Regions from separate parts of the Homo sapiens genome. Here region 2 is linked to region 1. The links come from fine-mapping of genetic effects on gene expression. A gene starts in region 1. The other region holds a variant in brackets. All regions are shown on one strand. Distances are between the middles of the regions.

Region 1 (5,522 bases):
AAAACTCTATAAACTTAATAACCTTTCCTTAAATATATCCAAAAAGTTACTATACGAGATACATGTGATAAATTTAACCAAATACTTACTCTATAACCAAGAAAGGGGGGAAAATCATAAATTCCTGTCTCCCAAAGGATACATGAAATGATGCTCACAGTATTCCAATGCTAAAACCAAGTTTCTTGAAGAACTGGTTCAAAAGAGGGGAAAACGCCCTGTACTTTCCAATTGCTTCTCTGACACAAGGTTTTTCTCAACACCAAAACCCTAAGAAAAACATCATTAGCTTCCTAATTTCTCTGGCTTAAACAATATTCTCTCTATAGTCCACAGAAAGCATGCTGTCAAGAATTGCATGCCACCTACTCACTCTTGTAGGATGTTATCACTTCTCTATGTTGCCACTCTTTATCATCTGAGAAATCAATGATCACTATGAATTTCCATTGGTTAAGAAAACAATTTTAGTTCTAATCATGGGTAAGTACACCTTTATCAAATAGTATGTCATCTACAAAGAAACAGTCATATTTTAACCAATCAACTTGCTCCTCCCCAAAGTAATGCATTTGTTTATTTTTATTAAAAATACTGAGACAAAGATACATCGGTTTAGTATTAGAATTCAAACTAGGGCTAGCTAAGAATAAAAACTACCTATCAAGTCACTATGAAATAGTAAAGAAATCAATATTTCTCTAAATTCAGTGCAATTCAACAGCCACTTTATTGAATACTATATGTGTTATGCTAGGTGTTGGGAGAGAAAGGATTAAAACACTTGGTTTATGGAGCTAATAATAATCCAGTGGATGTAGAAAACAGTAGGGTAGCTAACAGATATAGACAGTATAATGGTAAAGAAGAAAAATCATTAACTGGATAGACAATCTAGGCAGACCAAACAGCACGTGCAAAAGCAGAGTTGCTTAGTAACACAGTATATTCACAGAACTCCAGTGTTAATTATGAAAACAAATTGCAGACCAACAACGTTTCACTGGCACATCTGATTTTTTTGTTTGAGAAAGAGCACCCTAGCTTCTGGGAGCTCATGTGGTACTACCAGCTAGGCTTTGGTGTTGCTAGGAGCAGACCTGGCACTCATAGCCACGCCCTAATGTTCTCCTGTTGAACACAATTTCACAAAAGTTCAACCTCAAATAAGGCCACTCTGTAATCATGTCTGAACAAGGACAAAAAAATAAAAATGTCAAACCACAAAATGACCAAGTATCTCCATCCTGGCTAAATGAATGACTGTTCCTTCTCTGCAGCTTTAACCTCATTCTAGTCTCTCATTTAAGACTTAGTAAGATACCCAATCACAGAATTACCCCAGCTTCCCGAACACATCCAATCCACAGTAAAGCTCTGCTTCCCTTACCTTCCCCTAAGACCACCTGACACGAGCCCAAATCCTTCCTAACTCTTATTCAAACGGCCCATGGTTCCCATGAATTCCAGTGCGTTTTCCCTCACTGCAATGAGGGATAAACCCAACCTGTCAAATCACAGGTGTATTCCTGATGGATTTTGGCTGGAGGGCAGTGACAAATTTTACTTTTCATGGTGAAATTAATCCCTAAAAATATCAACCAAAAGGGTTGAATTCAAGACTTTAAAATTTCCTTTTCCTCCTTTATATGAAGCGTTTTAAAGATCTGCTTGTGGGCATACCATAGCAACGTAATTATATTTTCGGATAACTTGACGAATTTTCTTCATCTCTTCATCCAAGTTGCAAGCCCAAACTTCACAAATTCTTTGGCTATGATCTACAGTTGCCGCTGGCATAGTGAGGGCACAAGGGAGTCTAGATGCCAAGCATCAAAATGTTATACTTGATTGAAGATTTGTTTCATAAAATATTTTATCCTTTATTTATGTACCTGTCAAAATAAAAAAACAATATGAAGACCAGATATATCAAATCTGAATCACAGAATAATTGATCCAGCAGGAACCTAAGAAGTTATTTATTCAAAGTTCTTGACTCATAAAAAAAAAAAATCAAAGTTTAGAAAGTAACTTAAGGTCACACAGCTAGTCTATAGGAAAAAAAGGACTACAGTACAGATTTCCTGGTCCTAATTTCAGTTATTTTAAAATAGCTTTTTTACACATACATACTAATCATATTTTATAACTTTCCACTAATTATTTATCTGAGTTCAACTACTCTGCATAAAACTTTATAAAGCCATCCATTTCCAGACAAAAAATGAAAAATTACTTATTTACATGTGACAAGATCAGATGTTACCATGGCAAAGATGGTGTTTATTTTTATTCCTCATTAATAAAACAACCAAAATCCGACTTGATAACAAGATCTACTTTACCGGCGTTTATTCTAACTAGACTAGAGGGGTCAAAAATGTTTGTAAATGCTCTGAGAAAAAAGTAACGGCCATGAAAATTATCTGAATGTTCGCAGTTGCAGAACGGAAAAAGAACACAATAGAACGTCTAAAACTTAGAGCATATTGCATGGTTACCAAAGATAGATGTCACATTTCTGGTCTATAAACAGAGTTCCTGTTGATTCTTGGGCAGGGAAATTTCAAATCCTTCTGCATTTTTCATACAAATTGGAAAAAAAAAAAACAAGAGTAAAAAGAGGGTCTTATGACTGTCTTCTAAACTCTGAAGAGTCACAAATGTAACTTCCAATTCTCCAAGTAGAGAAACTAAAGGAGATCCAGGACACCCCTCCTTTATAACTCTCCCACCCCGATAGGCACACACACACACATAAGCACAAAAACACAAAGACTTGGAAAGACCCTGTAGTCTAACATTGTTTTCCTCCACCTCTCTCTCTACTGCAGTCCCAGAAGCCCCGAAGAGACACCAAAGGCCTTCTCATTACTGGAGAAAGCATCTCCGTACTGCAGTTTCCCAGAGAAACGAGAGGACGGCACCGAGGTATTCAAGCCATAGATAACTCTCTTCCCTGGCAAAGCGCCAGTGCGAAGGTGCTGATAACACTGACTGGAGCTACACTGACTCCCAAGCACTGCCGCGTGAAACAATACGAAGAGGTGAGGATCTAGGCCACCGCCCTCCACTCCCAATTTCCGTCCCACTGCGAAGCCCCAGGTACAAAGCCTTTGCGTCATCACTACGCGCCAACCCCTTGACAAACCCCCAGCCCCAGTTACCCAGCCCCCAACCCGCCGCCAGGCTCCTTCCTCCGCCAGCCGCACTCCAGCTGGCGCCATCGCGCACCCTCTCAGGTTCATCGTCCCCGCCCCCTTTCTACTTCCCTAACCCGCCCCTCCCCCCGTAAGGCTGCAGCGGATGCAAGATCTACTTGTGTCGCTGAGCTCGCGCTCCTCCTCCTCCTCCTCGCCATAGAGACAGCACTCGGCGGCGGTGGCGGTGGCGGTGGCGGTAGCGGCGGCGGCAGCGGGTGCCCCATAGACACCTCTCGCCCAGCGAAGGGAAAGGCGAGCAGGAGCTGCGCCGCACCGTGCTGCGCCGTCGCTTTTCGCACGTCCTGACGGGGGCGCTAGATGATGACGCGACACGCAGAGGGGGCGGAGAGCGCCCCCGGGGGCGGGGCACGCAAGTGACGGCGGCGCGGGTGGTGGAGCGCTGGGCGGCCAGGCTCCCTGGCTGGCCGGTTTGGGCGTCTGGGCCGTGAAGGTGGGACCTCCTGTTCCGGGCCGCAAGTTTCCCTCTCCAGCCGCCCGCCGTTCGTAGCATGTCCCCCAGAACTCGGGGAGCGCAGGCAGGACAGGCTTAGAGAAGACGCGGTCCCCAGCGCTTGGGCCACGGACGTCCCACCCCGCTCCTCTGTCGCTGGAGAACCGCCGGGCCGAGCCACTGGGAGAAGCAGGCCAGAGCCTTCCAGGGCCTCCGGCCCGTGGACCCGAGGAGGATGAGCTGGCTTTTTCCCCTGACCAAGAGCGCCTCCTCCTCCGCGGCTGGGTCCCCCGGTGGCCTCACCAGCCTCCAGCAGCAGAAGCAGCGCCTGATCGAGTCCCTCCGGAACTCACACTCCAGGTGACTGGTCGCTGCCTCTCCACCGGAGGAAAAAGTAGGGTGGGAGGGCGGGCTTGTCCTAACCACCCTCACAGCGCCTCAGTCTGCTCCCCACCAGCTCCTCATGTGGTTTACCTCCCTTGGTTGTGGGTCACACGCTTGCTCTGCCACTCCTGCCCCCTTTTACTGTTTTCCTCCGGACCCTCCCTGCCTCCTGCCGCACCACTGCTCAGCGCTTCTAACTCGGATTTCCTCATCCCTCCTGACACATAGCTGCTGACTGTAATCTCTCAATCTCTCTCATAGTCTATTTCCAGTATCCCTTGCTGCCCAGGCTTCGCCACTGATCTTTCCCTTTGCCCACCTGATTGCCGCGTCAGCAGAATTGTTAAAATACAATTGTGAAGAGTAATCTCCAGGTTTCACAAAGAATGGAAAATAGAACTGTTGCAACATCAAAGGAAAGGGAAGCCAGAGTTTTCATCAGTGAATGCTTCTCGTCTGAGAGTCACTTATCACGTAGTCAGTCTTCTTGAGTCTCTAAGATTTACCCTGTTGGAGCAGTCTCTCCCCATCTCACAGCGACCAGTGCATGTACATTTCTCACTTCTTTCATAGTCTTGTCCCCACGCTCAAGAATTACTTTATGTTCATCTTGATTGTTCTGTTGTCTTCCTGTGAGTTTTTCATTTTATCATGGTCAGTTTAGAAATATTTTTACAATTCATATTATTTCAACTTTTACTGTAAATTGGTTTGCTGCAGCCTTTTACATTGCAAATGTCTATGGTCTCTAATGGTTTTCAAAAATTAGAACTGCTTCTTTATATTTTATGCATTTTGCAAGTATATTTACTTAACAGTTTCACACTATTTTAAATAAAGATGACAACATTGTTAAGTCCCTAACCCCTTTTTTTTTTTTTTTTTTTGCCGGGGGTACGGCTCTCCTGTTGCCCAGGCTGGAGCGCAGTGGCGCGATCTCGGTTCACTGCAACCTCCGTCTCCCGGATTCAAGCAATCATCCTCCCTCAGCTCCCCACACCCCTCCGAGTAGCTGGGATTACAGGTGCGCGCCACCATGCGCGGCTAATATTTTGTATTTTTAGTAGAGACGGGGTTTCACCACATTGGTCAGGCTGGTCTCGAACTCCTGACCTTAGATTATCCACCCGCTTCGGCCTCCCAAAGTGCTGGGATTACAGGAATAAGCCACCTCGCCGGGCTCCTAGCCCTTTTAAAAATATTATTTTCATACAGTTAAAAAATATGTATCCTCAGATAATATCGAATAATTCTTATTTAAAATGGAATAATTTTTAATTAAATAGTCTAGTTAATAGAAAAATTTACTGCAAAATCAGTTTGGCTAAAATAAGGCCTGATGCTGACTGAACTTTAGGTGTTTCTTGGTTCGTTGTCTCAATTGTTCTGTTTGTTCAGAACTTTCAAAAGGTGAAATTTTATGCTGTTTAACAGAAAAGAATGGCAGGCTGTTATTGGTGGCTTTCATTCTGGAAAATTAA
Region 2 (5,000 bases), 27 kb after region 1:
GTTAATGTTGGCTTAATGGTTAGACTTCAGTGCTGATACATCTATATGTGGCATCTCCATGTGACCTGCGCTTCCTCACTGCGTGGCAGGGGTGAGATCTGAGGGTCAGGATCCCAAGAGAGAGAGCATTCCAACCAAGTGGAAGCTGTATTATCTTTTTTGGTTTAGTCCTGAATGTTATTCAGCATCATTTCTGCTGCATTTTCTAAAGTTAGTCACCTAGATCCACCCAGATTGAAAGGGGAGGGAAAGTAGACTTCATTTCTCGATGGGGTAGCAAAGTTCAAGAAGTTCATATGGGACTGGAAATCTGGTTGTGGCCATTTTGGAATATAAAGTCGGTCACATTCTTCCTCCTAGCCGTAAGAATTCACCTCTTTCCTATAGGTGAATAGGCACACTCCCCTTTCCCCAAGAACTTGCAGAGTTCATCATATTGTAGAATCAGGCTTGTGTTCTTTCATCTAAATCAGATTCAAGTACAGATGAGGTTTCTCACTTGTGTTCCTGAAGAACAATTCCTCTTGATCTGAAGACAACGGAATTAAAGAGACAAGGTAGCTGCCCCTCACACACCCACTGTACAATGGTAGAACAAGCCTCGGGTAACCACTATAGATTCCAAAAGAGAGGAAGTAGGAAGCACACAGGAGCCACTGGTTCATAACAGTACTGAAATCCAACTGGGCACATTGTTTTTTTTATTAAGACTTAGTTAATGGAAATGATTCTTCATAGAGTAATTTTCGTTTCTTGGTTCTGCCTTCTGTGTCATAATTCCTTTCTGTAAAATGTAGCCCTTGTTTCCAAGTGCATAGTTTTTTCAGCCTGCTTCCTGCCTGTAGAAATTAAGGGTCTGTTAGCCTCTTTTTCATTTGGTACTTTCTCTGTCCCTTGTAGACCCAAGATGACACAATTCCTTTAACATGCTTATGATTGGCTGGGCGCGGTGGCTCACGCCTGTAATCCCAGCACTTTGGGAGGCCGAGGCAGGCGGATCACGAGGTCAGGAGATCGAGACCATCCTGGCTAACACGGTGAAACCTCGTCTCTACTAAAAATACAAAAAAGTTAGCTGGGCATGGTGGTGGGCACCTGTAGTCCCAGCTACTCGGAAGGCTGAGGCAGGAGAATGGCGTGAACCCGGGAGGAAGAGCTTGCAGTGAGCCGAGATCACGCCACTGCATTCCAGCCTGGGTGACAGAGCAAGACTCCGTCTCAAAAAAAAAAATGCTTATGATTTCTTATGAATCCTTTTTCATTCATTTCATTAAACAAAAGCAACACCCACTAAGCTCCTCCAAATAAGCTGTTGGGCTTCCAGTGAGGCTGCTGAGAGACAATGTCTTTAAGATTCTTTGAAGCCCTAAGTGGCTGTTTTTCTTACTCGACAGCACTCTGAGGCTCTGCCTTGGCTCTTCCAGAGGTGTTAACAAAGGATCTTCTAGCCCATGCTGGGTTTGAACTTTGCTTTTAGAGGTGTTTCTTAATTTGAGAATCTTAGGGAAGCTAGGAATGAGAGATAAATTTATTTTCAAATCCAGGAAATCTCATCTTTCATATTTAGCAGTTCTTTAATTTCTCTCTCTTCTCACATTTTACTACAGCCAGCTAGAAATCAGGTGGCACCATCCGCACTGCCTGGAAATCTCCTTAGCTAGATCATCCAATTCACTAGGTACATTTTCTGTTTTCCATATTATTGCATGCAGCAGTATTGGTAAACTTTCCACTAATAAAAAGTTCTCCTTCCGGTGACCATCTGCTCAAAGGCCCACCAGGCTCCTCCTAACAGCCTCTTTGAGGCCCATTAGACCTTCATAATCTTCTGAGGGGACTTCCAGCCTATAGCTCTGCTTGGTCCCAAAGCTACTCCCACACTTTAGATTTTTGTTGTTGTTGTTGTCATAGCAGCATTCCACTTCCAGGTACTTCAGCCCTCTCCCCCTCATCTTTTTCTTCCTGTTTTCTATGTTCTAGAGTCCTGAGTCCTTATTTTCAGATAAAAAATGTATTCAAAACCCATACCTCTATCTTCTGTAGTAATAGGGCTGGATATAAACTCATTTACCTTATTTGAAAATACAAACCGACAAGTTTACTTGTTTTCATTTCAGATAAGTTCGGGGATATAGTACCATTATTAAAAATCAAGTTTGATGCATTTCTTAGATTATTTTGTGGGTTGTACCTGCTACTGAGTTCAAAATAAAGCAGATTGGGTCAGAATTATTGATTTAAATTCAAAGATATTACAAATACTCTCTCATGTTGGTTTTATTGTTTCTAAATAGCTTGTTATATTCACATACATATCACTAATTCCTTCAGATAAATTTTAAGATAAAGATGAGCCATCGTTTGAAATGAACAAGCTGATTAGAAAACTTAATTTTTTCTAGGGGTCATATATTCACCTGGCTCAAAATTCAAAAAGTATAAAGGAGTATAGAGTGAAAATCTCCGTGTCAC[T/TTC]TTTTTCCCTTGCAGCTTAATTTTTTTTCCTCATTAGCATCTAAAGTTATTTGTTTGGGTTTGTGTATATATAATTCCTGAGCTGTTTTATTCATCTACAAGAAAATATATATAGTATTGTATTTTCCCCCTTTTTTATATGAATGGTAGCATATTTTGCCCTTCCTTTTTTTTTTTTTTTTTTTTTTTTTGGTGGAGGGGGTCACTAAATGATATGGTTTTGGAAAGTTTTTCATGTTAGTACTAAGGCACTTCCTCATTATTCCTTATAGCCACAAAGTATTTGTTTTATGGGTGTATTATAATGTCTTTAGCAAGCCTGACAGATATTTTCATGTTTTCTAACCCTCCCTCAAAAGCCCATCCTACTTCATTGCCGTCAGTGCTGCTCCAGTAAATAATCTTTAAAATAATATTTTACCCAAATGTGAGCTTATTTGTTGGATAAATTCTAGAAGTGTAATGCACATTTGTAGTTTTGACAAATGCTGCAAAATTGCCCTCCAGAGTAGTTGTACCAGTTTCTGTTCCTATACAATCCCTATTTTCCCCAGGCTGGAGTGCAGTGGCGCAATCTCGGCTCACTGCAAGCTCGGCCTCCCGGGTTCATGCCATCCTCCTGCCTCAGCCTCCCGAGTAGCTGGGACTACAGGCGCCCACCACTACGCCCAGCTAATTTTTTGTATTTTTAGTAGAGACGGGGTTTCACCGTGTTAGCCAGGATGGTCTCGATCCCCTGACCTCATGATCCACCTGCCTCAGCCTCCCAAAGTGCTAGGATTACAGGCGTGTATTAGGGTTTTATAATTTGTTTTGCTTTATCAAAGGACTAATATTTCTGTACCTTCCTTTTTCAGGCTTTTTTTCTTTCTACTGTGGCTTATTTTTCCATATACATTTTAGTGTCATTCGTATACATTTAAAAAAAATGTTTTCTTCCCACAAAATTTCCAACTCAGGTTATGTCATTAAATGAAATAATAGTACTCTCATAAAAAATTAATACATTTTGAAACATTTTTCAATGTAAAGGGAAGCATTTTAGTAGCATTACATTAATATTTAAAACATAACTGTAAGTCCCTTATCCTTTACACTAGAGTGCCTGATCCATATAAACTCACTGTATTATTCATATATTGTATTTAGATGATTCTCAGTCTGCATCTAGGTCTGAATTACTCTAATGCTTTTTAGAGTAATATAATGATCTGGTTCTCTCTAAAATTTGCTAAGGGGAAAAAATGTTAAATGTAAAATATTTGTTATCTTGCAAAAATAAATACTGACTATATTGTTCTGTGATTGAATCCAAAGTACATAATGCTGTGTGACTCTAATATACATGCGTGTTTATATATGCATCTGTTTTTAATATTTCAACATTTTAGAAGCTCATCTGCATACTTAATTTTACTTCGAAATTTTCTAGAAAAGCAGTCTTGACTTTCAGTCAGATTTTGACAAATACAGAGAAAGCTGTTAGCCTCTACTTGAATAAATGTCCTGGATTAAATATTGCTCTGCATTCCCTCTATGGAGATACTGATTGATAGCAGTGGAGTGCTGAAAACTCAAAAATGGCCTGTCTATCCACTTCTACTCCGTCCAGTTGAATTGCATGCTTTCTAAAGCACCCATCATCTTCTTTGTAGAAACCACAATTCTACAATTCTTTTTTTTCGGGGGGGTGGGGTCATATTTTACCACTTTATATAATATTTAATTCCATTATATAATTTAATAAATATCACCTGCCATTATAACATTTCATCTATATAGTACTTGACCTTTGTTATTTAGAACAATTTAGAAACAATTTGACATGTTTTATCCATAAAATCTAATGTAATGATCTTCTCTTTTTCTTTTCAGTCTATACAGTAACCCAAGTGGGATGTCTCCTTATGCTTCTCAGGGTTTTCCATTTCTTCCTCCATATCCTCCACAAGAAGCAAACAGGAGTATCACTTCTTTATCTGTTGCTGACACTGTTTCTTCTTCAACAACAAGTCATACCACAGCCAAGCCTGCCGCTCCTTCATTTGGTGTCCTTTCAAATCTGCCATTACCCATTCCCACAGTGGATGCTTCAATACCGGTTGGTATCGTCAGTTATCTATATTTTGTGCCACTGAAACATTCATTCAATCCACACACCTTTATTACATGCCTCTGTGTGCCAGATAATAAGTTAGACACAAAATATGAAAAGATGAACTCACATTTTTCAATTCAAGTAACAGGTAACCAACAAATAATAATTTTAAATATGGAGCTTCTAATTCTAGTGTAGTAGAAGGGACAGAGTTTTGGTAGAGACACAGTTAGGGGAATGGTCAGTGCTCCTAGGGACCAAGGTAGAACTAGTAGATCGCCTTTACAAAAAATGTGATTCTGGTTTTTTTCACCACTTTCTTAGTGCCTCAAATATACTGATGAATATAGTGGGTACTCTTTAAAAATGAGGCAGCTAAACAAATGCATGCATTTATGCTTGAGGCCAGATTTTGAAAGATCATTATTAA

Alleles and levels. Alleles are on the strand shown, and positions count from the first base shown. SD is a standard deviation of normalised expression in the study named.
As copies of TTC replace T in region 2, the expression in NK cells of the gene that starts at base 3,606 in region 1 goes down (small effect, 0.23 SD a copy in Gilchrist 2021).

The links. PIP is the estimated chance that this variant, and not a neighbour inherited with it, causes the effect. A credible set is the group of variants that fine-mapping cannot tell apart.
Region 2: its variant is the best candidate, but not a certain one, in a credible set for the expression of VPS37A in NK cells (Gilchrist 2021, PIP 0.88).

Annotation. Positions count from the first base shown.
Region 1 is chr8:17,243,353-17,248,874 of GRCh38, forward strand. It overlaps VPS37A (VPS37A subunit of ESCRT-I), which reads left to right and starts at 3,606. Exons shown (of 12, transcript NM_152415.3): 1 at 3,606-4,017. The coding sequence starts at 3,893. CNOT7 (CCR4-NOT transcription complex subunit 7) reads right to left here and starts at 3,505. Exons shown (of 7, transcript NM_013354.7): 1 at 3,323-3,505; 2 at 1,684-1,895. The coding sequence starts at 1,800. RefSeq lists an enhancer at 3,254-4,102.
Region 2 is chr8:17,270,386-17,275,385 of GRCh38, forward strand. It overlaps VPS37A (VPS37A subunit of ESCRT-I), which reads left to right. Exons shown (of 12, transcript NM_152415.3): 5 at 4,348-4,573. Among named protein-coding and RNA genes, the nearest start is that of VPS37A, 26 kb to the left of the region's middle. The variant T/TTC (reference allele first, on the strand shown) is at 2,473.